Regions from separate parts of the Homo sapiens genome. Here all the other regions are linked to region 1. The links come from fine-mapping of genetic effects on gene expression. A gene starts in region 1. Each other region holds a variant in brackets. All regions are shown on one strand. Distances are between the middles of the regions.

Evidence for each region. PIP is the estimated chance that this variant, and not a neighbour inherited with it, causes the effect.
Region 2: its variant is fine-mapped to the expression of PPP1R3B in whole blood (TOPMed, PIP above 0.99).
Region 3: its variant is fine-mapped to the expression of PPP1R3B in subcutaneous fat (FUSION, PIP 0.95).

What each region holds. Positions count from the first base shown.
Region 1 is chr8:9,147,206-9,155,470 of GRCh38, reverse strand. PPP1R3B (protein phosphatase 1 regulatory subunit 3B) reads left to right here and starts at 4,813. Exons shown (of 2, transcript NM_024607.4): 1 at 4,813-4,908. PPP1R3B-DT (PPP1R3B divergent transcript) reads right to left here and starts at 3,746. Exons shown (of 5, transcript NR_183348.1): 1 at 3,555-3,746. RefSeq lists silencers at 3,809-4,058, 4,559-4,828 and enhancers at 4,179-4,418, 4,465-5,413.
Region 2 is chr8:9,083,496-9,091,760 of GRCh38, reverse strand. It overlaps a transcript of ERI1 not described here. Among named protein-coding and RNA genes, the nearest start is that of SNORD3I, 29 kb to the right of the region's middle. The variant C/T (reference allele first, on the strand shown) is at 3,256.
Region 3 is chr8:9,896,374-9,904,373 of GRCh38, reverse strand. MIR124-1HG (MIR124-1 host gene) reads left to right here and starts at 1,045. Exons shown (of 3, transcript NR_024281.1): 1 at 1,045-3,685; 2 at 3,762-3,819; 3 at 4,088-4,310. It overlaps MIR124-1 (microRNA 124-1), which reads left to right and starts at 902; the gene lies at 902-986. It overlaps LOC124902057 (a long non-coding RNA gene), which reads left to right. Exons shown (of 4, transcript XR_007061170.1): 4 at 187-304. RefSeq lists enhancers at 6,195-7,076, 7,077-7,959. The variant AT/T (reference allele first, on the strand shown) is at 4,568.

The DNA.
Region 1 (8,265 bases):
TTGCAATCCTTTTTAAAAGTTTCTGGATGAGCAGAAAGCTGATGTGAACACATGTATAAAGGAACACTGTTTAATATTTAAGCCAGAAAGAGGACCTAACTTTTAATCAGCACAGTGGAAATTCTCTGGGTACTTACCGAACTCTGCGTCTTTGCCAATTCCTGCCATGTTCCCTGACATGACCCTTTAACTCTAACTCCTCCTCCAGGATCCCAATGATCACATCTATAGGATCAGCCTCTGGTCATCCCCATTCCCCCCCCAACTCTGCTGCTAAACACACAAGGTCTTCCTCTTAACTCCCCTAACACAGAGACTTACCTTAACATACATTTATCCCAAATCAATATTTTTTTTAGCCTATGAGCTTCTCAGGGGTAAAATTATATTTCACCTATTTTTCCACGTTCAGCATCCCGGCTTAAGGAGGTTCCTTAGTAATATGTCGTTGAATAAATGAATACATGAGTGAATGAAGAGAGGACTGAAGAAGCCACACATGAGCCTAAATGCAAGGAAAAAGATGGACAGTGCTACCACTAACAGCCATGAAAAAGAACAGTTTCTCCCCCTCCCCCTCCCCCTCTCCCGTCTCCCTCTCTTTCCACGGTCTCCCTCTCATGCTGAGCCGAAGCTGGACTGTACTGCTGCCATCTCGGCTCACTGCAACCTCCCTGCCTGATTCTCCTGGCTCAGCCTGCCGAGTGCCTGCAATTGCAAGCTCGCGCCTCCACGCCTGACTGGTTTTGGTGGAGACGGGGTTTCGCTGTGTTGGCCGGGCCGGTCTCCAGCCCCTGACCGCAAGTGATCCGCCAGCCTTGGCCTCCCGAGGTGCCGGGATTGCAGACGGAGTCTCGTTCACTCAGTGCTCAATGGTGCCCAGGCTGGAGTGCAGTGGCGTGATCTCGGCTCGCTACAACCTCCACCTCCCAGCCGCCTGCCTTGGCCTCCCAAAGTGCCGAGATTGCAGCCTCTGCCCGGCCGCCACCCCGTCTGGGAAGTGAGGAGCGTCTCTGCCTGGCCGCCCATCGTCTGGGATGTGAGGAGCCCCTCTGCCTGGCTGCCCAGTCTGGAAAGTGAGGAGCGTCTCCGCCCGGCCGCCATCCCACCTAGGAAGTGAGGAGCACCTCTTCCCGGCCGCCATCACATCTAGGAAGTGAGGAGAGTCTCTGCCCTGCCGCCCATCGTCTGAGATGTGGGGAGCGCCTCTGCCCCGCCGCCCCGTCTGGGATGTGAGGAGCACCTCTGCCCGGCTGCGACCCTGTCTGGGAGGTGAGGAGCATCTCTGCCCGGCTGCCCCGTCTGAGAAGTGAGGAGCCCCTCTGCCTGGCAACCGCCCCGTCTGAGAAGTGAGGAGCCCCTCCGCCCGGCAGCCGCCCCGTCTGAGAAGTGAGGAGCCTCTCCGCCCGACAGCCACCCAGTCTGGGAAGTGAGGAGCGTCTCCTCCCGGCAGCCGCCCCGTCCGGGAGGTGAGGGGCACCTCTGCCCGGCCGCCCCTACTGGGAAGTGAGGAGCCCCTCTGCCCGGCCACCACCCCGTCTGGGAGGTGTGCCCAACAGCTCATTGAGAACGGGCCAGGATGACAATGGCGGCTTTGTGGAATAGAAAGGCGGGAAAGGTGGGGAAAAGATTGAGAAATCGGATGGCTGCCGTGTCTGTGTGGAAAGAAGTAGACATGGGAGACTTCTCATTTTGTTCTGTACTAAGAAAACTTCTTCTGCCGTGGGATCCTGTTGATCTGTGACCTTACCCCCAACCCTGTGCTCTCTGAAACATGTGCTGTGTCCACTCAGGGTTAAATGGATTAAGGGCGGTGCAAGATGTGCTTTGTTAAACAGATGCTTGAAGGCAGCATGCTCGTTAAGAGTCATCGCCACTCCCTAATCTCAAGTACCCAGGGACACAAACACTGCGGAAGGCCGCAGGGTCCTCTGCCTAGGAAAACCAGAGACCTTTGTTCACTTGTTTATCTGCTGACCTTCCCTCCACTATTGTCCTATGACCCTGCCAAATCCCCCTCTGTGAGAAACACCCAAGAATTATCAATAAAAAATAAATAAATTAAAAAAATAAATAAATAAATTAAAAAAAAAGAAAAAGAACAGTTTATGGAAGAATAATAATTTACTATGCTTAGCCACTGCTGTTTTCTGGTTTCATTTTTTTTTTTTTTTTTGGTTGGGGGAGGAGGGTTGTTAAATAAAATTAAAGCTGTAACCCAATGCCAGATATAATAGAAAGAACTTGGTGTGCATTGACTGATGCAGTAAGCATTGAAATTTTCCATTTTCACTTTCTCTCTTTGTTGCCATAAAATGAGAGGGTGAGGCAAGATCGTGTCTGAGGGTGGGTCCAGCTCTCAGGCTCTGGAGCTCTGCACTGCTGGGTCTCCTGGTAAAGCCCTCCTCTGAGCTTGCATCTCAGCTCTATCCTGATGGCAAAGACTGTGCTCTTTTCAAACTCATAGATGACACCCTCCTACCTACTAAGGCTGTGGTGTACCACAACTAAGTTTAACCCCTCTCTCCTGGTCTGAAAAAGTCATCTAAACCACAGGGGAAATTATTGACCATGGTTTCCTAGATCTATGCAAGAAAAATGCTCCCAAACCCTAATGCTACAAAGCTGTATTTACTTGTCCCAACTCTTTCCCGGTGTGGTTCGGATTACCCTTTGCCTGCATATGTTTTGCAATACCTCTTGGCTCTTCATCTTTGCCCACTCCTCCAGCATGCTCACTACACCTGAGAAACTTAGCCAGTACTTGGCTTAAAAATCTTCAACCTACTCATCACCTAACAAGAGAGGGTTTAAAGTTGGCAGAGGGAATATTGCACAGAAACGCTATTTGCCAACCACCTACCAATAGCTGACTTCACAAGTGGTCCCTTATCAGATCTGCCCATCAGAAAAGAAGGAAGAAGATTAATGATCATTCTTCAGACACCAGGACTCCCTCCGGGGAAGCTCTCTATAGAGCTAAAGGCTTGTATTGGATTATTGTCACCGATCACTGTTTTAGGCTTGCATTCCTAGTAAAATTGAAGCTGAGCCTGTATCCCTTACAGTAGAAACTCCCAAATGCCATATTCAACATAATGAGTTTTCAGAAAGCTAAATATATCCAATGGGAAAGACTGGCCATTACATCCTTCCTGCATTTCGTTGTTATTGCTATTAAAGTGTACTTTAAAAAATAAAAATAAAAGGATAGTAATAGAAGACAGCAGGGTTTATTTTCATGTCTTTCTTGGCAGTTTAAAAAGTTGGCAATCCTATATCAATTTCTAATTTTTTTCTAAAACTCTACTGGTCATTAAAATTAGAAAACTGGTAGCCTCATGCCTAAAGTGGCTAGTTCAGATCAAGTTACATGTAAACTGAAGAAAGGAAGAGCCTCTGATTCAAACTCTTTAAGGTCATCATTTTTTTCTTTTTCTAAGACCATTTTCTATAGATCTCAAGGTGCATAATATGCATCGCGGAGGCCCTGTAGATTTAGATAGCGATTATAACCGATTCAAGTCAGGAAATTTCTTCTGAAGTATACCTACCTGTGAAACCCTCCATATCTGGGGCGCTCTGTGCCACGGGTGTCAGACTTTTGCAAAAGCCCTGTCATTCTAACGGGACGCCCTCCTGTAGGAAGTTGCCCCCTGGCGCCCGTCCTCCGGCTTCTGATGAAACGGCGACCCACCACCCCCTTCCCAGACCCTGGCCCGCAGCCGGATCACTCCGGGCGCGCTGCCGATCACGTGGCGAAGCGGTGCTCCCCAGCGCCGTGGCTGCGCGCCCATTGGTCGGCGGCTGGAGTCCCGGGCGCGCCCATTGGCTGCGGGGGGCGTTCACGTGGCAGGGGGCCTGGGATGGACCCCGGGGTCCCGAGAGCTGGCAGGAAAGTTAAAGGGGGCAGCGCGGCCGCGGGGAGCTCGAGTCCCGGGTGACTGCTGGAGGGAGGAGGTGACCGCGCAGCTCTCGTGCACGGACGGACTTCGCCGCCCGCGGGGGGCGCGAACCCGAGCCCGGGCCCAGCTCCTGCCGTCACGGCAGCTGTCCCTGTTCCCCCAGGGCGTATGCTGCCGCGGGCTGGCGCGTCTGCCCTCGGGACTTATGAGCTGAACCCGGTACGTAGCTCCCCAAGTCTCGAGTCCGAGGGAAGGGCTGGGGACAACAAGGCGAGGGCGTGCAGCGGGGACCTCTTTGGGTTCCTGTCACCTACATTTTCACCGTGCGACTTGCACTGGCACACCGGGGCTGGAACACTCTAGGTAGCTGGCCCCAGGGAGCTGTTGCTTCAGCGTGGAGAGGGCGATCCAGGGACCGCAGCTGGGAAGCGCCTCCCGGGCCCACGTGCTCCACCGCGCTGCTGGGCCCGGCTGCGACCGTGACCCGGGAGCTGCGGCTGCGGCGGCTGATCCCTTTACCACCTGTTGTTCTGGCTTCGAAACTAGCACAAGTTCCCAGCCCCGGGTCCCGAGAGGTCTGGAGACTTCTCCAAAGTTGGGTAGTGGGGTTTGGAGCTTAAGGACAAGCCGCTTCGTCTCTCTCCGGGCCTTATTTTCCCTATAAAACGCGAGGAAATACACTTGGTAGGCTCTCAGGCCACCGAGGGCGACGGGACCTAGCACGATCCCCGTCCCGGGCTGGCGGAGGCCAGGCGGCCGCGCGGGGGTGCTGGTGTCGCGCTGCTTGCTCCGGCCGGGGTTGCCCCTTTGCCGGCCCCGCCCGGGTGCGATAACGGGCTCCTCCTCCTCGTCGTCTTCCTCCCACCGCCGACATCTCCGGGAACCCAGCCCAGGCCCTGCCTCCCGGACACACCGACGCTCACGTAGTCGCGCTTGCCACAACCCTGCGGGCTCTCCGATGCGGCGAGCGAGCTGGGGAGGGGGCTTCTCCGCGGCCCAAAAGGTGGGTGCGGCGCGAGGCCAAGGAGGCTTGTAGGGAGGTTGGGGGCGGAGTGCAGCCCTGGTCAAACTGGACGGAGGGGACAGAGTCGGAGAGTAACTTGTGGGATCCTCCAGCCTGGAGAGCACTGGCCTGCTCCTGCGTCTCTTTGGAATCCAGAAAAAGGGGTGTGGAAGGCACAGTAGCTGCAAAAGAGGGAGTGGGGGCCGGTAATGACTTACTGGAAGATTTGGGGCCTGTCAGAGCACTGTTTTCTGAAAAAGAGGAGAAAACAGAGGAAAGACTGGACTTGGGAACTTGGAGACTTGGAAGGTGTTGGAACCTGTGGTCTGAGTGGCGGGGGCCTGCCTGGGAGACCCAGGGTGCAGCAGAAGAGACAATTAGAGCTTTGGTCTGGGAGGAAGAGGAGGAGAGGAGGAAATGTTTCCTTGGGCAGAGTTGTCCAGGAGCCAAAACTAAAGTGAAGACAGCTGGAGGACTTACACAAAAGTACAGTTGAGGTATTTAGGAAAAAAAGTTAGTGGGAAGAGAAGCGGCACCAGGGGTGGGTCGCAACATACAATGTCAGGGCCAGCAGGGACCTTGGAGGGGACCTCAAGCCCAGAGCAGCTGAGTGACTCGCTCAAGTAGCAAAGCAAGGTGCGGGCATTCTTAGCCTAGTACTCTGTTTTCCCTCGTACGTTTTTAGACGGCAGGGGCTGTGTCATTTGAACTTGCCTCTTTCCTAGAATATGCAACTGTATTCACAAATGTCAGTCTCCAAGATGCTTTGGATGATGGGGACAGGATCAAGGGGTACAAGGAGCCTTTAAGGCTGTGAATAGGCCCCCATGGTCTGAGTACAAAGGGGAAAGACATGCACTCTCTTCATGCTGGATCAGTGAAACCTTTTGGAAGGGAACACAGAATTGTTGGAGGGAGGTAGATGGCCATGTCTTTAAAAATGAAAATTATAACCTGGTTGTGAATGTTTACTGAATGCAGTTCGGCAGCTTTCAGTGTTCCTGGTGGGTTGCTTGTGCATCTGATTTTTTTGTTTGTTTGGTTTTGTTTGTTTGTTTTGAGACGGAGTGTCGCTCTGTCGCCCAGGCTGGAGTGCAGTGGCGCCATCTCTGGCTCATTGTAAGCTCCGCCTCCCGGGTTCACGCCATTCTCCTGCCTCGGCCTCCTGAGTAGCTGGGACTACAGGCGCCCGCCACCACGCCCAGCTAATTTTTATTTGTATTTTTAGTAGAGACGGGGTTTCACCGTGTTAGCCAGGATGGTGTCGATCTCCTGACCTCGTGATCTGCCCGCCTCGGCCTCCCAAAGTGCTGGGATTACAGGCGTGAGCCACCACGCCCGGCCTTTTTTTGCCTTTTTTTTTTTTTTTTGAGACGTAGTTTCGCTCTGTCGCCCAGGCTGGACTGCAGTGGCGCCATCTCGGCTCACTGCAAGCTCCGCCTCCCGGGTTCGCGCCATTCTCCTGCCTCGGCCTCCTGAGTAGCTGGGACTACAGGCGCCCGCCGCCACGCCCGGCTAATTTTTTTTTTTTGTATTTTTAGTAGAGACGGGGTTTCACCGTGTTCGCCAGGATGGTCTCGATCTCCTGATCTCGTGATCCGCCCGCCTCGGCCTCCCAAAGTGCTGGGATTACAGGCGTGAGCCACCACGCCCGGCCTTTTTGTCTTTTCTTACCAGAAGAAAGAGAGAGAGAGAATAAGAGAATGGAGGGGATAATGTCGTGGCCCTGATACAAAAAAGATTTCCTCCCTATGAAAGGTACAGCCAGAAAGTCAGTAGTTCAGCTGCCTGAAACCGTGAAGGTCATAGGGTTATTTTCTGTGCAGGTCTATAGTTATCACCATGGCCGTCTAACCTTGGCCAGCTGTCTTGAGAAGGTGTGTTATGAGTGGAACAGATAAAGCATTTATGCAAAACTATCTCCATGATCTGTTAGGGTTTGCCCTGTCTTAGCCATGAACACTGTAATCTACCCTCAAGCATGGCCCAGTCTCTCACCAGAGAAACTGATCCCTGAGCTCTGAGGCATCTCTATGGAAGCAAGTGTTTGAGAATTCATACCTACCTGGGAGCAGCACTCATACACTCATTCCTATCCTGCAACTGGTATCAGATCCTGAGTCCTGCTCTCATGGTTCAAATGTATGTCCATAACTTCTGGTTCTTTTTTTTTCCCCCTTGGCCAACTTTGGTGACTCATATTCCCTGGCCTGGGAAAAGGACAGAGCTGGAGCAGCCAGAGAGTCTGTCAGGAGAGGAGGCTGGGCTGCAGCCTGGTGCTTCCTGTGTTGGAACCGATCATTTTCATGTCATTTGTAAAAGAAGCACCTGTCCAGGTGCCTTCTTTTCAGGAACTTAATATTACCTTGCACATCTCAGTTGCTAGGAGTACTTCTGCATGGCGGCAGCCATCCCTGTCACAGTCCGCTGGGGAGTTCCTGAGCAGTTCAGGAAAGCCTACACCAAACCAGCACTTTGGTGTGCTGATTCTTGGAGAATGACCTGGTAAATAAAATCTGGAAGCTATCTGTGGGACAGGCAAGGTGACTGACAGTCGAGTCATACCCCAGATTGAGGCCACACAGGTTAATGTCCTCACCTGCAGTTATGGTGACACACAAAGTGAAGGGATTCTAGACTGGGGTTGCTTGTGCAATGTCCCTGGGGTAGTAGTCCTGCGGGTAACTCTTGAGCCATCATAACCTTACTTTTGCCTTTCATGGAAGAATCTTGTAATAGCAGTTTGGCTCCTTCAAGTGCCAGCAGCATTGTTTAATTAGCTCTGGCTCTGACTAGAGCCTGGCCTCTCCAAGCCGGACTTCTGCTTGTTCTTACAGCTTGGTGATAAAAAGGGATCTCAGGGACAAATTTATGCCACTGGGGTGAAACAGTGAAACTCTACCAAGGTCTTCAGCTAAGTCTCTTCAGCCTGCGGGATTAGAACTTGGGACATTGGCTCTAGTGGGCTGTGTGTAGATTCTTTGATTGATCCTTTTGCTTTGGCTGTTTCCACAATATCTTGAGAGTTTCCAAGGCTTTTCCTAACATGCAGAAAAAGCACGTAGGAGGCTGGTTTGCAGGCTTCTTGGAAGTGCAAAGAGAACTTGCAGATAACCTGTGCTGACTCAGTTGAGGAGGAAGCTGTGAAGAGGAACCCTTCCTCCCTCAGTTCACACCCAGATTTTTCAGGATGGGTAGAGTGGGGGGCACTGGGATGCCAGATATAGCCTCTTGTTTGGTTTTCGTACTTGTTTAAAAACAAGGCTGGGCACGGTGGCTCATGCCTATAATCCCAGCACTGTGGGAGGCTGAGGGGAGCAGATCATGAGGTCAGGAGTTCGAGACCAGCCTGACATG
Region 2 (8,265 bases), 64 kb after region 1:
TGGGAATAATTTGTTCTTAAGTGCTGTCATATGCTAACCAGACAGATGCTTTCCCTTGGGATTCTTTTGAAAACTCTCATAACATTAGACCTTGACCTAAGAACCACAGTCAAATTTATCTTCCCTGATGGATTCATTTATAGAAAGGCAAAGTTCAGACTTCTGTGTTTGACATTGAAATGCAAAATAAGCAAAACATTTTTATTTGAGCACAATATCACCAAATAATGGCAAGAACTCTTTTTTTTTTTTTGAGACAGAGTCTCGCTCTGTTGCCCAGGCTAGAGTGCTATGATGCAACCTCCTCCTCCTCCTGGGTGCAAGCCATTCTCCTGCCTCAGCCTCCCAAGTAACTGAGATTACAGGTGCATGCCACCACACCCAGCTAATTTTTGTATTTTTAGTAGAGACAGGGTTTCACCATGTTGTCCAGGCTGGTCTTGAACTCCTGACCTCAAGCGATCCACCTGCCTCAGCCTCCCAAAGTACTTGGATTACAGGCGTGAGCCACTGCTCCCGGCCAAGAATTCTTTCTTGTGGTGTTGTTTTCTAACTTTCTTGCATGTGGTGATTAAGTCAGATGCTGAAGAAGGGCCGACAGGGAGATAAAATGCAATTTCTGGGTGTTCTTGAAAAATTAACTTGCAGCATTATTTTAAACTTACACATAAATAAAATAGGGGAACATATATGTGTTAATATAAAGACTGTTGATTTTTGGAAAAAAATATTTTCAGAAGATCATTGGTGTCCCTTGCTGAATTCTGAACTTAAATGCAATTTTCTAGCTCCTTAAATGCTAAGTATTAGAAAGTAATATTACACACTATAAAAAGTTTATAAAATACAGAAAATAAATATTACCCCAAATTTCATCACTCAGAAACAGCTTGGAATATTTCTTCTCTGTCTTACTCTCCTCTCAAGCCTCTCAAATTGCAATTATACTGGAAAGTTCATTGTTTTATTGTGTTGTTGTTGTTTTTTGATCTTGTGTCTTTCCTCCACTTATTATTACTTTGAAACCATTTTCTTGTTTCACCTATTTCTTTTCTAAAGCACAATCTATAACTGAGGACATAGTTTTATCTATAGAGGAGGACCCCAGAGAGAGTTTCCTTTCTCATTTCTTCTCTTTTGTCCTATTTAAACTTTTAACCGTGTGCATGTGTAACTTTTTCCATTTAAAAACGAATACTCCTAAAACATCATCTTCACAGACTGTGTAATTCCAACGTATTCTACTTCATTTTCCACTCCTGGTCATGTAGATTTTTTTCCAATATTTTACCATAATCAATAAGCTAGAGTAAGTACCCTTAACATAGATCTTCATCTGCATTGCTGATTATTTCCTTTGGCTGGATTCCTAGAACTAGAATGATTGGGTCAACCAATGAGAACTTTGAAAGGCTTTTACATCACTGGAGAAACAGAACAAGTTGGCACCAAGGTGTCCTCCCACCAGCAAAATGCACCTGAGCTCACCACACCCCTTCTCTGTCGGCCCCTCTTCCTTTCCTCTCTCACAGCATATCAGGAGGAGGAAGAAGCAGTGGAGTTTCTGCATAATTGGGTCAAGCAAGTGTCCTGGGTCCTTGGATAAGGTTTGCTTACAAGGAGAAGGTGGGATTTTCATTACTGGCTCTTGGTGCCTGTCTGTGTCTCCCGGTTGCACATCCGCACACGTGCAGATTGGAAACATGGCACAATGAGACTGATGACAATCCAAAAAAATGCAAATGTGATATCATCTCAGCCGTCATCCTTGCTTTGCAAGTAGCACACCCTCTTTGCCAACGGTCGAGTCAGGAGCCGTTCTCTTGGATAATTTCAGGGAATCTGTCTCATTGTTCACATTCACATCCTCCTCCTCCCAATCTTATTTCCATTCCCACCAGCAAAATGCACCTGAACCCATCCTGCCACACCTTTCATTTCTTCACTGAAAAGCTAAGCGGACTCTGCCACCTAATCCCTCTGTTTTTCCTAATGGTGGGAAACAACAAAAACCCAAGGCATCGCTCCGGCTACACAAACCTCGTCATTTTGTACAGCTAGTGAAGAAGAGGTGGGGAGAACAGCATAGGATTGGAATCTGTGGGCTCCGGGCAGGACTTTGATGGTGACCAGGAGTGGAGTTCTGAAGGTAGAGCCAGGAGTCTCCACTCAGAGCCAGTGGGGCTCCTCTCTGCTTCCTCCTCATAGGGCATTTTCTTCCCTCTGAAGTTTGCATCATCTAGGGGACCACAGTGAACCACCAGTGGTCTATGGAACATACTTTGCAAACCCTTGTGTCCAAGTCATTCTCAGAAAAGGAAGAAGAATCTTAAGTTCCCCACTGGAAAGAGATCCAGGCTGCGTGTGGTAGCTCACACCCATAATTCCAGCACTTTGGGATGCCAAGGCAGGAAGCCCACTTGAAGCCAGTAGTTCAAGACCAGCCTGGGCAACACAGCAAGACCCCATCTCTATTTATAAATATTTTTAAAATTAAATAAATTAAAGAAGGTGAGAATGGTCTGGAATATGCCAGAATCATCTTTCCCTTTGGCCTATATGTTTTACAGGCAACAAAGAAGCACAGGTGAGAGAAACTCAGTGAAGAAAAGGAAAGAGGAGAGTGAAGCGGGAACCATGTTATTTCCCTAATCTATTTGAGGAAACCGAGCCTTAGTGATGGCGAATAACTTGCCAAATATCACACAGTGAGGAAGTGGTTGAGCCACAGTTCTACCCTAAGTCTGGCTAACTCTAAAGCCAAGGCCACCACATAACACTGTACGTGCTAACCCTGCAGCTTAGGAACTAACGTCACGCTGCTCTCCAGGGTAGGAGGAGCACGTAGTGAACCTATTAACTCACCCGCATGACCTGGTCAGGGAATGTGTTTGGCCTGTTCTGCAGAGACACTCATTGTCAACTCCCTGGTTAAACCCTCCAGCATGCTACAATCCAAAGGCAATGACGTGCATGTGAGCAATGAGGTGGATTCTCTGAAATTACCCAGGAGAACAGCTCCTGACTCAGCTGGTGAAAAGGAAGTGTGCTGCTTTCAAACAAAGGATGACTGACTAGCAGCCAGCTGAGCCCACAACTTGCACTGGCTGAATGGGCATTGCTCCCCCTCTGCGCCATCTCTCCCACCACTTATAAATGGGTGGATGGGCAACACACAGAGAGATACTCACTGTTAATCTCCCAGCAGTTTACACAAACGTCCGCTTGCATCACATGTCAAATTTCCTTCCCACA[C/T]AAGCTGTGGTTTGCCGGTCGCCACTCCTGGTCCTTTCCTCTTTCTCTTTAATGATAATAAGAATGTCGAGAGCTTTAGCAGAATGGGCACAACTTGAGCTAACGGAATACCGTAAATGCAATTTCAGCGACATTAAATAGTTCAATGTTTAACAGCAAAGAAAGTGGGAAATTGAGTCAGTGAATGGCTAATTTGACCTGAATTATTCAGAAAACACTTTAATTTTTTTTTTTTTTTAATTTACAGAGGCTCAGACACAGAACAAATGCATGCACTGGTGTTAAATGCAGAGAAGAGAAGGTGTTATCTCCTGAAATGGATTCTGCTTTCTTCGGGGTTAGAAGGCCTCCTTTTTGAACTGACCTCAACCCTGCTGATTTTGTCTCCTTTCCTGGCCATGAGGATCAGAAATCAGCAATGATTTCATAAGTAACTTCTCATGAAACCACATACCGCAGCGTGAGTCACACATGTAGCTCTGTGCACCTGTAGGCGTATATGCCATTCTTTTTAAATCTGCCAGGAATGTGATGATCAACTGGACCCAGTTTGCCTGGGATTTTCCTTATTTGTACTGAAAGTCTTGTATCCTGGGAAATCCCTCACTTCCAGGCATACTGGTGTGATTGACCATCCCACCCAGGAAATGAGGAAGAAGCAAGGGGTCCTTAATGTGTTGTCCCTACCTGAATCTGCCCCTTTCCCTCTCTGTGAAAGTAGGGAACCTCAAACCCTTGTGGGGCCTGATGCTCCCACCCAGCTGCATGGGGAGGACATTTATGTCAACTTGAGCAGAAAGTAGGGGATCTAAATTTATCTATTGAAATGTGTTGCTACATCTCCAAACTAAGATGTCTGTATCTGCGTGTGCATTAAAACACATATAATTACACAAGGAATACATGATCACTGTATAAAAATAAAAAATAAAAATCAAAATAAAAATAAGGGCAGGGTGCAGTGGCTCAAGCCTGTAATCCCAGCACTTTAGGAGGCCGAGGTGGGCCTAAGGTCAGGAGTTCGAGACCAGCCTGGCCAACATGTTGAAACCCTGTCTCTACTAAAAATCAAAAAAAAAAAAAAAAAAAAAAATAGCCACATATGGTGACATGCACCTGTAATCCACAGTTACTAGGGAGGCTGAGGCAGGAAAATGGCTTCAACCCGGGAGGCGGAGATTGCAGTGAGCCAAGATCGCTCCACTACACTCCAGACTGGGCAACAGGAGTGAAACTCCATCTCAAAAATAAATAAATAATAAATATAATTTAAAAATAAATAAAAATAAGATGAAGGTGGGGGGCAAGGGGAGGGAGAGCATTAGGACAAATACCTGATGCATGTGGGGCTTAAAACCTAGATGATGGGTTGGTGGGTGCAGCAAACCACCATGGCACACATGAACCTATGTAACAAACCTGCACATTCTGCACATGTATCCTGGAACTTAAAGTAAAATTCAAAAAACTTAAAAAAAAAATAAGATGAGAAGGTGAGAAGGAGGTCAAAGTTACTCAGAATCCTACCGCCCAGCACTAACTAGTTTAAAACTAGTTAAAATTTTGAGAATTTTCCTGTGTACACTTATAGATTATAATGTAGGCATATAAATGGGTATACATAATAGTAAGTCCATTGCAGGAAAACATACAGAATAATGGTTTGACACTCTTGCTCAGTCAACAGTATGAGTATTTATCCAAGCCAATATGTATGTTTTTACAACATCATGTTAATGGCCACATAATATTCTATAATGTGTGTTTATCACAGTTAACCACTTTGATTAGGTAGGACATTTAGGCTGCTTTTCATTTTTTACTGTTATAAACAGTGCTGAAACCAACAGGCTTCTTGCTATAATATTGAACACATCCTTACTTATTTTGTTACAATGCATTCTTAAGAGTCAAACTATGGGTCAAACAGAATGAATTGGTTGGTCGGTTGCCTAGTTTTGAGACGGTATCACTGTGACCCAGGCTGGAGTGACGTGGCGTGATCTCAGCTTGCTGCAGCCTCGACCTCCCTGGCTCAAGAGATCCTCCCACCTCAGCCTCCAGAGTAGCTGGGACTACATGTGCACATCACCACACCCATCTAGTTTTTGTATTTTTTGTAGAGACGGGGTTTTGCCATATTACCCAGGCTGGTCTCAAACTCCTGGGCTTAAGTTATCCTCCCACCTCAGTCTCCTGAGTAGCTGGGACCACAGGTGCAGGCCACCATGCCCAGCTAATTTTTGGTATTTTTGTAGCATTGGTGGTCTCACCATCTTGTCCAGGCTGGTCCTGAACTCCTGGGCTCAAGCAATTTGTCCACCTTGGCCTCCCAAAGTTCTGGGATTATAGGTGTGAGCCACCACACCTGGCCCGCTATCCCTGTTTTTTTAGCATTCATGGTAAATGCCGCAGTCTAGACAAACAAATTAGGACTTGAAAGAGGACGGGAGTTATTTCCTAATAGTAGGATAAAATTCTCTTTTCTGTGATTCCTCCTGGTTGCTCAAGAGATTATCTTCTAGATACACACAAACCAACACATGCATGCTTATGCACACACTTTAAAAAAAGCATCTTGATCATATAAGAGTTTGCTAAATTTGTCCTCAGCATGGAGACTGCCATTAACAAGTTAGAAAAAACCTGCTGTTCTGCGTCTCACAGACCTCAGCTAAGGAAAGACCACCATTTTATGGACACCAATCCCAACAGCTATACTTTGTTATAAATTAGCGTCACATATTCCTGTTTAATTCTTATTGACTCCTCCTCTAACTTTTACTGTCTCATCACTTAGAGTGAATCTAAATTAGGGGCCCTGAACTTTCTCTGTTAAGGGCCAGATAGTAAATACTGTAGGCTTTGTGGGCCATTACAGTCTTTATCACAACCACGACACTCTACAAGTTTAGTACACAAGCAGAGAGAGGCAATACATAAATGAATGAGTGTGGCTGTGTTCCAGTAAAAATTTATTTATAAAAAAAGATGGTAGGGCCGGGCGCGGTGGCTCAGGCCTGTAATCCCAGCACTTTGGGAGGCTGAGGCAGGTGATTACTTGAGGTCAGGGGTTCAAGACCAGCCTGGCCAACATGGTGAAACTCTGTCCCTACTAAAAATACAAAAATTAGCCAGGCATGGAAGTATAAGCCTGTAATCTCATCTCCTTGGGAGGCTGAAGCAGGAGAATCACTTGAACCCAGGAGGCAGAGTTTGCAGTAAGTCGAGACCATGTCATTGCACTCCAGCCTGGGTGACAGAGCAAGACTCAGTCTCAAAACAACAACAACAGCAACAAACAAACAAAAACAGAAAGAAAAACAAAAAAAGCGGTGGGCACAGAATGTAGCCCTCAGGCTGGAATTTGCTGATGTAAATCACCTAGGGTTTGTTACAAAGCAGATTGGTAGGCCCCACCCCCAAATTTCTGATTCATGAGGTCTTGGGAATAGGTCCAAGAATCTGAATTTATAGAAGTTTCTAGGTGATGTTGATGCTGTTGGTTGGTGGGCTGGAGGGGGATGCAGGGGGGATTACATTTTGGAAACGACTGCTATAAGGTGGTCCCATAAACCCATACTTAATAAATCATCATATTCATACAAATCACAACATTTTTCTCCTGAGCGACTGAAGTGCTTGTGTACACCTCTCCACTTCAGCTTCTTCAGAAGGTTAGAATGATCAGCTTTTGTATCAGTCCAGCTATCTGGTAAAAGTCAGTGGAATCTCTCTAGCTAGTGTGTAAAGGAAGGGCTTTATTAATGTAGTTAGGGTACTCACAAACTCCTTGGAAAAAGAGGGAGGAATATTTTCCTGGGTCATCTTCCAGGAGCAGCCCCCAGAATGCCATTGCAGAGCTGACCTGATGGCATGCACCCAACCCCTCCCGCTTCCTCCAAGCCCGAGTCCTAGTCAAAATCTTGCAGCAAGAAGGTCTGACTTTCCAAACTGAAGTTGAGTGTCTGAGCTGTGGAGTTAAGGGAGGCTGGAAAATGCAAATTTGGGGATTTGATATCGGGAAGGCAGGCAACTACACAATGATAAACGTGGGGCAACCAATGTTCAGGTTTAGGGCAGCCACTGTCCATACAATTCCACTACGGGCAAAGAAAAGGTACAGTGAGAAGTAGAAAGTTACAAAGCAATAAAGTCCAGCTCTCTGGAATTCATTTCAAAATAATGTAGTTGGAATGGACAAAAATGTGGTGGAATAGATGAGGCGGTATTCTTTGAGACAGGGTCTCAATCTCACTGTTTCCCAGGCTGGAAAGCAGTAATGCCACGAAAGCTCACTGCTGCAACCTCCGACTCCTAGGCTCAGGTGATCCTCCTGCCTCAGCCTCCCAAGTAGCTGGGACTACAGGTGCACACCACCACACCAGGCTAAATCTAAAAAAAAAAATTTTAGGCTGGGCACGGCGGCTCACGCCTGTAATCCCAGCATTTTGGGAGGCCGAGGCGGGTTGATCATGAGGTCAGGAGATCGAGACCATCCTGGCTAACACGGTGAAACCCCGTCTCTACTAAAAATACAAAAAATTAGCCGGGCATGGTGGCAGGTGCCTATAGTCCCAGCTACTCAGGAGGCTGAGGCTGGAGAATGGCGTGAACCCAGGAGGCGGAGTTTGCAGTGAGCCAAGATCACACCACTGCACTCCAGCCTGGGCTACAGAGCGAGACTCTGTCTCAAAAAAAAAGAAAAAAAAATCATAGAGACAGGGTCTTGCTTTGTTGTCCTGGCTGGTCTTGAACTCCTGGATTCAAGCAATTCTCCCACCTCAGCCTCCCAAAGTGCTGGGATTACAGGCATGAACCACTGTGCCAAGCATGAAGCAGTATTCTTCCCCCCCGCTTTTTTTTTTTAACATGGACCATGCAAAACTCTGTATCATTTCAATTTTAGTATATGTGCTGCCAAAGTGAGCATCATGAGGCAGTATTGATTATGAGTTGATGATTGCTAAGGCTGGATACTGAGTACAAGGTGGTTCATCGCACTGTTCT
Region 3 (8,000 bases), 750 kb before region 1:
TGAGCTATCTAGGTCATTAGCATTTTAGCGTATGCAAGACTTGACAAAGCTGATGAGGGGCCAGATGGGCCTCGCTCTTATGGTTTTTTTTTCTTCTTCTTCTTCTTCTTCCTCTCTCTCTCTCTCTCTCTGTCTCTCTCTCTCTCGTCTCTCTTCCTTTCCCCCCTCCACCACTTGGGACCTGAGCGAGAGGACTGCAGCAGGCGAGTTCCGGAAGGCTGAATCCCCAGGTCCCAGCCCCGGACCGCGGCAACTCGCCCCTGCGGCACGCCCGGCCCGGCTGCGCCCCCACTCAGCGATGGAGGTAAAGAGGCGGCGGCCGCGCGCCCTGCCCCGGCTGCCGCTGCCGAGTCCCCGCTGCTCTCCTTGTCCTTCGCTCTCTTCTTCCTCCTCCTAGTCCCCTTCAGTTTCCTGGGCGAAGCAGAGGGCGACATGGGTGGGTGGGTTGCTGCGCTGGGGCGAGGTGGGGTCGATGTTGTTTTTTCATTGTCTGGAGCTGCAGGGGAGGCGAGGCGCGGGGAAAGGGGCGAGGGGAGCCGGGGTAATTAACACGGGGGAGGCACCCCTCCGTCTCCCACTTCCACCCACACCCCCATCCCTCCACCCCCTCCGCTTTGCAGGAAAAAGCCTGGATGCGAAAGGATGGGGGAGAACAAAGAGCCTTTGGAAGACGTCGCTGTTATCTCATTGTCTGTGTGATTGGGGGAGCTGCGGCGGGGAGGATGCTGTGGTCCCTTCCTCCGGCGTTCCCCACCCCCATCCCTCTCCCCGCTGTCAGTGCGCACGCACACGCGCCGCTTTTTATTTCTTTTTCCTGGTTTTCTTATTCCATCTTCTACCCACCCCTCTTCCTTTCTTTCACCTTTCCTTCCTTCCTTCCTCCTTTCCTTCCTCAGGAGAAAGGCCTCTCTCTCCGTGTTCACAGCGGACCTTGATTTAAATGTCCATACAATTAAGGCACGCGGTGAATGCCAAGAATGGGGCTGGCTGAGCACCGTGGGTCGGCGAGGGCCCGCCAAGGAAGGAGCGACCGACCGAGCCAGGCGCCCTCCGCAGACCTCCGCGCAGCGGCCGCGGGCGCGAGGGGAGGGGTCTGGAGCTCCCTCCGGCTGCCTGTCCCGCACCGGAGCCCGTGGGGTGGGGAGGTGTGCAGCCTGTGACAGACAGGGGCTTAGAGATGCAAACAGACTCAGGGAGAGAAACAGAAGCTGATTCTGTGACAGAAGCAGATCTGTGCAGCACAGATGCGGTGTGCGTGGGGAGGGGGTCGCCTGGGAGCGCATTGCGGAGTGCTTGTGTGTGCAGATTTTTCTCTGGGCTCAGGACTCATTGTATGTGGGTCAACACCTTCCTCCGTGACTGTGTTTTTGTTCTGAGCTGAGTTTTTTGGTTTGCCCTTAAAAAAATAATAATTTGGCATCCAGAGACTGGCAGACTGCCTCAGGGCCTGGACTGCGGATATATTGTGTTCTGCTTGAGGTTTGGGGAGGAGGGCAGGCGGTAGGAAGGGAGAGGGGGAGCTGTTTGTCACACTTTGCTGTAGAGCTGAGAGCACCTGACAAGCTTAAGGAAGTCGTTGGGCTATGTGGACAAGAAGGAGCCAGCTCCCAGCGGGTTCACAAGCTCTATCGGAGTTGAAAGCGTGGTCATGGCTCTAAGGAGCACCTCACGCCCTCCCTGTAGCTGTTATTGCAGTTTCAGGCAGAGATCCAGGAGCTGCAGAGGAAGGGAGAGGCACAATAACCTACATGGACCCAAGGGAGACATGTGTTCCTTTAAAAATGTGAACAGAAGGAAAAACAGAATGTGTGCAACTGGGGGTCTGAGGAAAGACTGTTTTGAAAGAGGCTGTCAGGGAATGGAAAGGGTTAAGCTTTTCATCCTGAAGAACCTGCTTCCCAAATCAGGCCTTCCTCCCATCACTAGACCCTGAGCAGCAGCTGGTCCTAGAGACCCCCCTCGTACTGCGCTGCCACAGTCTCATCCCATTTCCAGCTCTGTATTAACCACCAAGCTGCAGCGGATGGGGCAAGACCTAAGCTCATTAATTTCCAGGTGGAGGAAATGGAGGAGGGGCAGGTCCCTGCAGTAGAGGGAGGAGCAGAGAAAGGAGGCCAAGAGCTGGATCCTTCTGCCCAGGAAGCCTGCTGCATCCCTTCCCCCGAGCATGGCAGAGGCCTGGCTTTGCAAGGCCAAGGCCATAAGGGATGCTTAGGAGATTAATTTGATTCCTGACACAATAATCAAGCCCTAAGAGTCTCCACTGAAGCTTACTGAGGACTTCTTTCCTCTCCAAAGCCTCAGTCTAGCCTGCTAAATAAATTAGTATTCAGTGATGCCTTGGATCAGGGCCCCTCCCCGGCCTCAGTTTCCCCAAATATTTATTAAGTACCTACTGTGTGCAATCCTTGTGTAATTATTAACTCTTAGGCTCTTCATTTGCCCTCCTAAAGCAGTGTTTAGAGTCAGGCAGAGGTTAAGTGTGTTGCACCTCACCTAGATACTTCCAGAACCTTCTCTGGGTCTGCAGAATGTGGCACAACCTGCTTGCCCCCGCAGAGAGAAAGCTGCAGTGCACATCCTGCAGACTGCAGGTGCTGGGCTGCCTCTGGAGTCCCAGAAGGCAAGCTTGGCTGCAGGACAGAAAGGGAGAACAGCTTCTCTCACCCCTGAGCCTTCACAAGCCCTTGTCTATTTGCCGTTGCCTTCAAAATATACCTCCCCCGAAACCAGTAGCTTTCTGAGTCCTGGTGTCCCCTCCGCCCTTTCTGGACAGGTTTGGGAAGAAGAAAGCAGTCAGTGCTGGGCCTTATTGGGGTGTGAAGCGCCTTGCTCTGCCCCTTCTGCTCACTGTGAAGGCCGCTGGATGCTTCTCTTAGGCATGGTTTAAGCCTCCGATTACTAAACCCCTTGCCCCACAAACGTCCACATTGACGAGCCTCTTTTTAGTAACTGCTTCCCCGTAATTCCTTCAGAGGTTGCTGTACCCTTCGCTGATGTGCTGCCCTCCTGTAAAACCTCCAGATGCCTTCCCACGTAATGCCCCTTTCAGATGCTTTAAGCTGAGAGCTTAAACCACAGGTACCATGGCTGACGCCTGCCAGGTTTCTGCTGCAGATAATCTATGATGGGAGGGGCATATTTTTTACTTCATTACTTATGTAAACTCTTGTTCCAGAAAGCTTTAATGTGTGTGGGAGTGTTCTGGGTCTATTAGGTCTGTGCGCATGGGTGTGGGCATTTGCCTGTGTCCACCGGGTGGGTCTCATTATGAAATGTATGTTTATGTAGGGCTTTAATGGCTGAAAATGGCAAAGAGATGAATAGACCACTTGGCCCCATGTGTAATTGCCAGGCCCCTTCTGTGCTCAAATGAGGTGTCCGAGTGAAGGTCAGCCCTTCCCTTCTGTATTTGGGGCCTATTTATGCCACCAGTAATTTTATAAGAAATCTGAATAGTTCTCCCCTTTGAGTGCATTTAACTCTTTAGTATCTTCTCTCTTACCTATTTGAGCCCCTCTAGCTACAGTCTGGCTTAAATGAAAGGGGAATTATATGCTTAAGAAAAAGTAGGACACGGTTGAGGCAGTTTGCTGACTGAATACGCGAAGAAGGACCTGATGGGCTCATATGCACCACTGCCATCACAGTCCCCATCGTGATGCAAGCTTATATGATTCTTGAGGTAACTCTACCAGATACTTCCAGATTTAGAAATGTGTCAAAGGAAAAATTGGTGATACTCTTCTTTCCCCTGCCAGAAACAGCCCAGATCTCCTCTTAAGCGGAAAAGAGATTGACCTTCTAGCAGAGGCAAAGGTAAACTCCTGTAAGTTACTTCTGTTACCAAAGGGAGGGGGGCGGCTTTTGTGAATGTATGAGGAGCTTTTGCCAGAGAGATATTCGGAGGAGGGGTGTGCCCATATGCACACATATATTTTCCCGCATAACCGTATCCAATGCTAGCATTTAGAGGAAGGCATTTAGCCACCAAAAGTCCATCCATCTATGCTGCTTCCACAGAGAAAACATTTTCTCTTTCCTCCTCTTGAACTTACATAATATCCTCCTCCCATTCCAACCTTAGAATGGAGTCTTCTGGGGGCAGCTGCAAAGCGTTCTCCCTAGGACAGATGGAGCCTCCCTTTCCTCATCTACTCTGTGGGTGGTTTCAGGGCCCACGAGTCAACATGAGGAGTTGTGCTGGTGGTATGTGTGTTGGAGGCTGGGCTGGCTGATTCACAGTGACGAGGATGTCAATAATAACAAGAATGAGAATGATGGTACCTAATAAAGACTTTTTTTCCCAAGTCCCATCTACAATTCTTTCATTGGGTGTTTTGCCAAGTCTTTCTCAATCTCATCTCAGCTTTTTTTTTTTTTTTAAAGAAAATGTATTCAATACTTAATTGCATCACAAATGTAGACATAGAAGAAAGGACTTCAAACGGAATTTATGGGAGGCAATGTGTGCGGCTTTTTGCCTTATAGAGCTGTGTAGAAGGTCTGGAATGATCTTCCAGCACCAAATTTAGATGGCCTCAAAAAAAAAAAAAAAAAAAAAAAA[AT/T]CAGGCCTTATTGAGGGCAAGGAATGTTCCAGGTCAGAAATAAAAGTGTCAGCAACTCTCAATAGGTTCATCTTTTTATTTCCTGTCCTTCTCCCTTTTGTCTTAAAATAGAAACGCTACCAAGACCTGAGGGCCTGGGTCAGGGGCCGGGAAGCCCAGAAAACAAACTTCCAGAATCACTAAGGGCTTTCTCTCTCAAAATTACAGTGGGAGGGTTCTTTTGAAATTCAAATCCAACCTATTTGTTGCTTAAGCACACACAAAATACTGAGACCTGGGGTCCAAGAGGCAATACTTCCGCTGCAAGTGCATGTTGCAACTTCGCGTGATGTTCCCAGGGCGGTTCTGCGGCAACTTGCGGCTCCGCGACTGTGGGCGCGGGCCCCATTTCGGGCCCCGTCGGCCGGGACCGCGCCCAGGGCTTCTCAAGTGACTCGCTTCCCAGCACGCAAGAGGCATTCTCGTCTCTTTCTCTTCGAATGCACCCGAGACTTCTCCATGAAGCAAGGAGAAGATGAGCAGGCGCTGGTTTCCCTTTTCTTTTTTGCTCCCATTTCCCAGTCTTGATTTTTTTTTTCCCTTTCTCTCTCTCTCCCGAATCATGCAGACCTGGAACTCCTAAGATTCGGGTCCTCCTGCAGTTCCCAAAGCTTTGGATCCATCCGAGGTGTGGGTAGATGCGGGTTAGTCTCAGGGTCTTTCTAGGATGAGCCCCAAGCCCAAGTTCTAAGGCGAGGGGGAGGCGAAGAGGTCAGGGCTACAAACGCCAGGGACTGTCCCCGGAGAGGTCATTTTTCCATTTTCCATGCACATCGATTTCACTCTAGCGCCAGATGGACACTCGACGGTCAACGTTAGAGATTTTTCCGGAGTCGGGGGCAGGAAGCGGGACGAATTGAGACGAGGGTACATCCTTTGCTTCCAAGGGTGGCCGAGCCAGACCGAAGGCCTGGGCGGGAGGTCACGTCCTCCCCTGGCCACCCACAGCGCTCCCCAGCCGCAGGCCTGGGCCTAGAAGCCGCGCCCTCCCGGCCGTGCAGCCGGTCAGCCTGTGCGCCCGGCGCCCGCAGTGCGGCTCCGGGCCTCTCTCTGATCCACTTCAGTACCTGCGGCCTCGAGGACCCCACCGTGCATCCCGGAAAGCCTCAGAACTTGCAAGAAAGAGGGGCTGGCAGGTGCAGCCTGGGAAGAGGACCCCGCCGCGAAAGCGCTTGGGGGTTGGGTTTTATTTGCTGGAGTGGGGGGTCCGTCTCAGTGCATCCTCCTGGATTCCCCATTAGGACGCCCCGCCCATACATCCAGCCTCCTCTCCCGGATACCCCCAGTGACCCGGCCAGGGAGCGGGCATCTTCCCCCAGGACCCAGAGACGTGTCCTCGCCATCCCCAAACACCGTCCTTCCCCACCCCCGCAACCCTCTCCACAGAAGCCAAAACCACAACAAAAATCTTCAACCCACAAAGAAAAAGACACATTCCTCCTTCGGCCTTAGTCAGCGTTAGTTCCAGATCCGAAGCCGGAGGGGACGGAGCCGCTCGAAGTCGGTTGGAAGGAAGGCGCAGAAGGCTCTTTCTGTCTCCATGAATCTCCTTGCAAATGCAACCGCTGCTGCCATTAGGACGCGGTCTCTGTTTGCAAAAAAAACTCAATTCCTTCCATTTCCTCATCTGTTGGGTCCATCAGCGTGCAGTGAGTGATGCAAGGTCCCTTTGGGTCAACAGGCCGTCCCCTGAAATAACTTTCAGAGCCCTGGCCTCAAGGTCATGGGCCGGGTGGCCTCTACAGGCCACAGGTCAGGACCAGGATGTGCCTGACTGAGGCTGTGCCACCGAGAGCTTCGGACGTGCAGAAAGGTGCCCTGAGCTGCACGGGGGGCTTCTGTCAGCCCCCTCCCACTCTACACAGATTGATGTGGCAATATTTATTCCCATTTAATTGAGACACTGGTTTAATTTCAGATTGCTTCGGCTTAAGGCCCAATGGGGTTTTCTGCAGCTCTTTTCCCCAGTGCCTCTACAGAAATTAATTGCTGTTAATATCCAATTTTGGCTTTATTATTCGTTAGCCAATTATGTATCCCATAGCCCAGGCCCCTTGCTGCTCTCAGCCTTTGCTGGAATCAGCTCACACTATGCCGGGCTTCTGCTTTTCTGCCTTCCCCTCTATTCAAACTCTGTCCTCCCAAGATGATTTACCGGCCCGTCAGGCATTTTGCTTGTGTCCCAGCGCTAGCTGAGCTGGCGGAGGTGTCTTTAAGACGTTTTCCCCCTTTTGAGGGAAATGTCTTCTTTGCAGTGGACATAATTTCCATTTAAAAAGGAATCTAAGCTTCTCCACTCTCGCTTCACTATCCTAAGATTTGCTTTCTCTGGAGCCATTTTTGGAGAGCAGTTTTCCATCAAAAGCAAGCAAGGTGCCCCGGCATCAGGGCTCCCCTCCCCACCTCCCTAGGAGCCCCTCCGAGACTGTCTTAAAGCCACCACATATACATAACACCATAGATTCAAACAGGGTGCTTGGAGGATGTCATTCCACATTTCAAGGAGGGAAACTTGAAAAAGCACTATTTTCAGAGATGAGGAGGGCAGCTCTCCCCTCGTCCCCCACAGAGGCCCTGGAAACCATTCCAGCCTTGCACTGCGCAACCCTGCTTGATGGAGCTGATGCAACTGGGGGCGAGAGCCTTTAAAAAGTGTTCTTTTGCCTTGGTTTTTTGTGCCTTGAGTTCACAGAAGCAAACACTTCCCATCACTGGTGCTCTGGAAACAGAAACATACAAGTGAGAATCCTAACGACAGCAGAGGCCCTTCTTTGTCTGCTTCCTCTCCTTCCCCCCTTGGAAAGAATGCCTCCCATGCCTTAATGTGCCCTCACACTTATCTCTAGCAGTTCCGTAACAACCTGCGCAGTGTCGGCATCAGAACCGAATGCAGAGAAAACAAAACGTCAGAGCCGCTGGCTTGGACTGCGGCCCCTACAGATGAAGCCCGAGGTGGGAGGTTTTCTTCTCCGCCTGGAAATCCTATGGTCAGATTTGTCGTAGGGGGGAGGTGGGTGGTGACTGTGGTGGAGGGCTGGGACATTGTTAAGAAGGTGCCTTACGCAGAAGGCTCAATAAATACCACCCAAATTGGATGTAATTAAATTAGCAGCAGCTGTCCTGCTTTTCCTGTTGAAAGCTACAATTAGGCATGAAGGCCTCCTGGGCAAAGGCTAGTTAGAGTGGCGTCCTAGGAAAGGAGGGGGCTAACAGTGTTTCTGGTTCATCTTCTATCCTCAGCCCCTGCCTAGCTTGTCCAGAGGCATGGAGTTTCTTTTCTTTTCTTTTCTTTTCTTTTTTTGTTTGCTCGTTTGTTTGTTTTTGAGATGGAGTCTGGCTCTGTTGCCCAGGCTGGAATGCAGTGGCATGATCTCGGCTCACTGCAACCTCGGT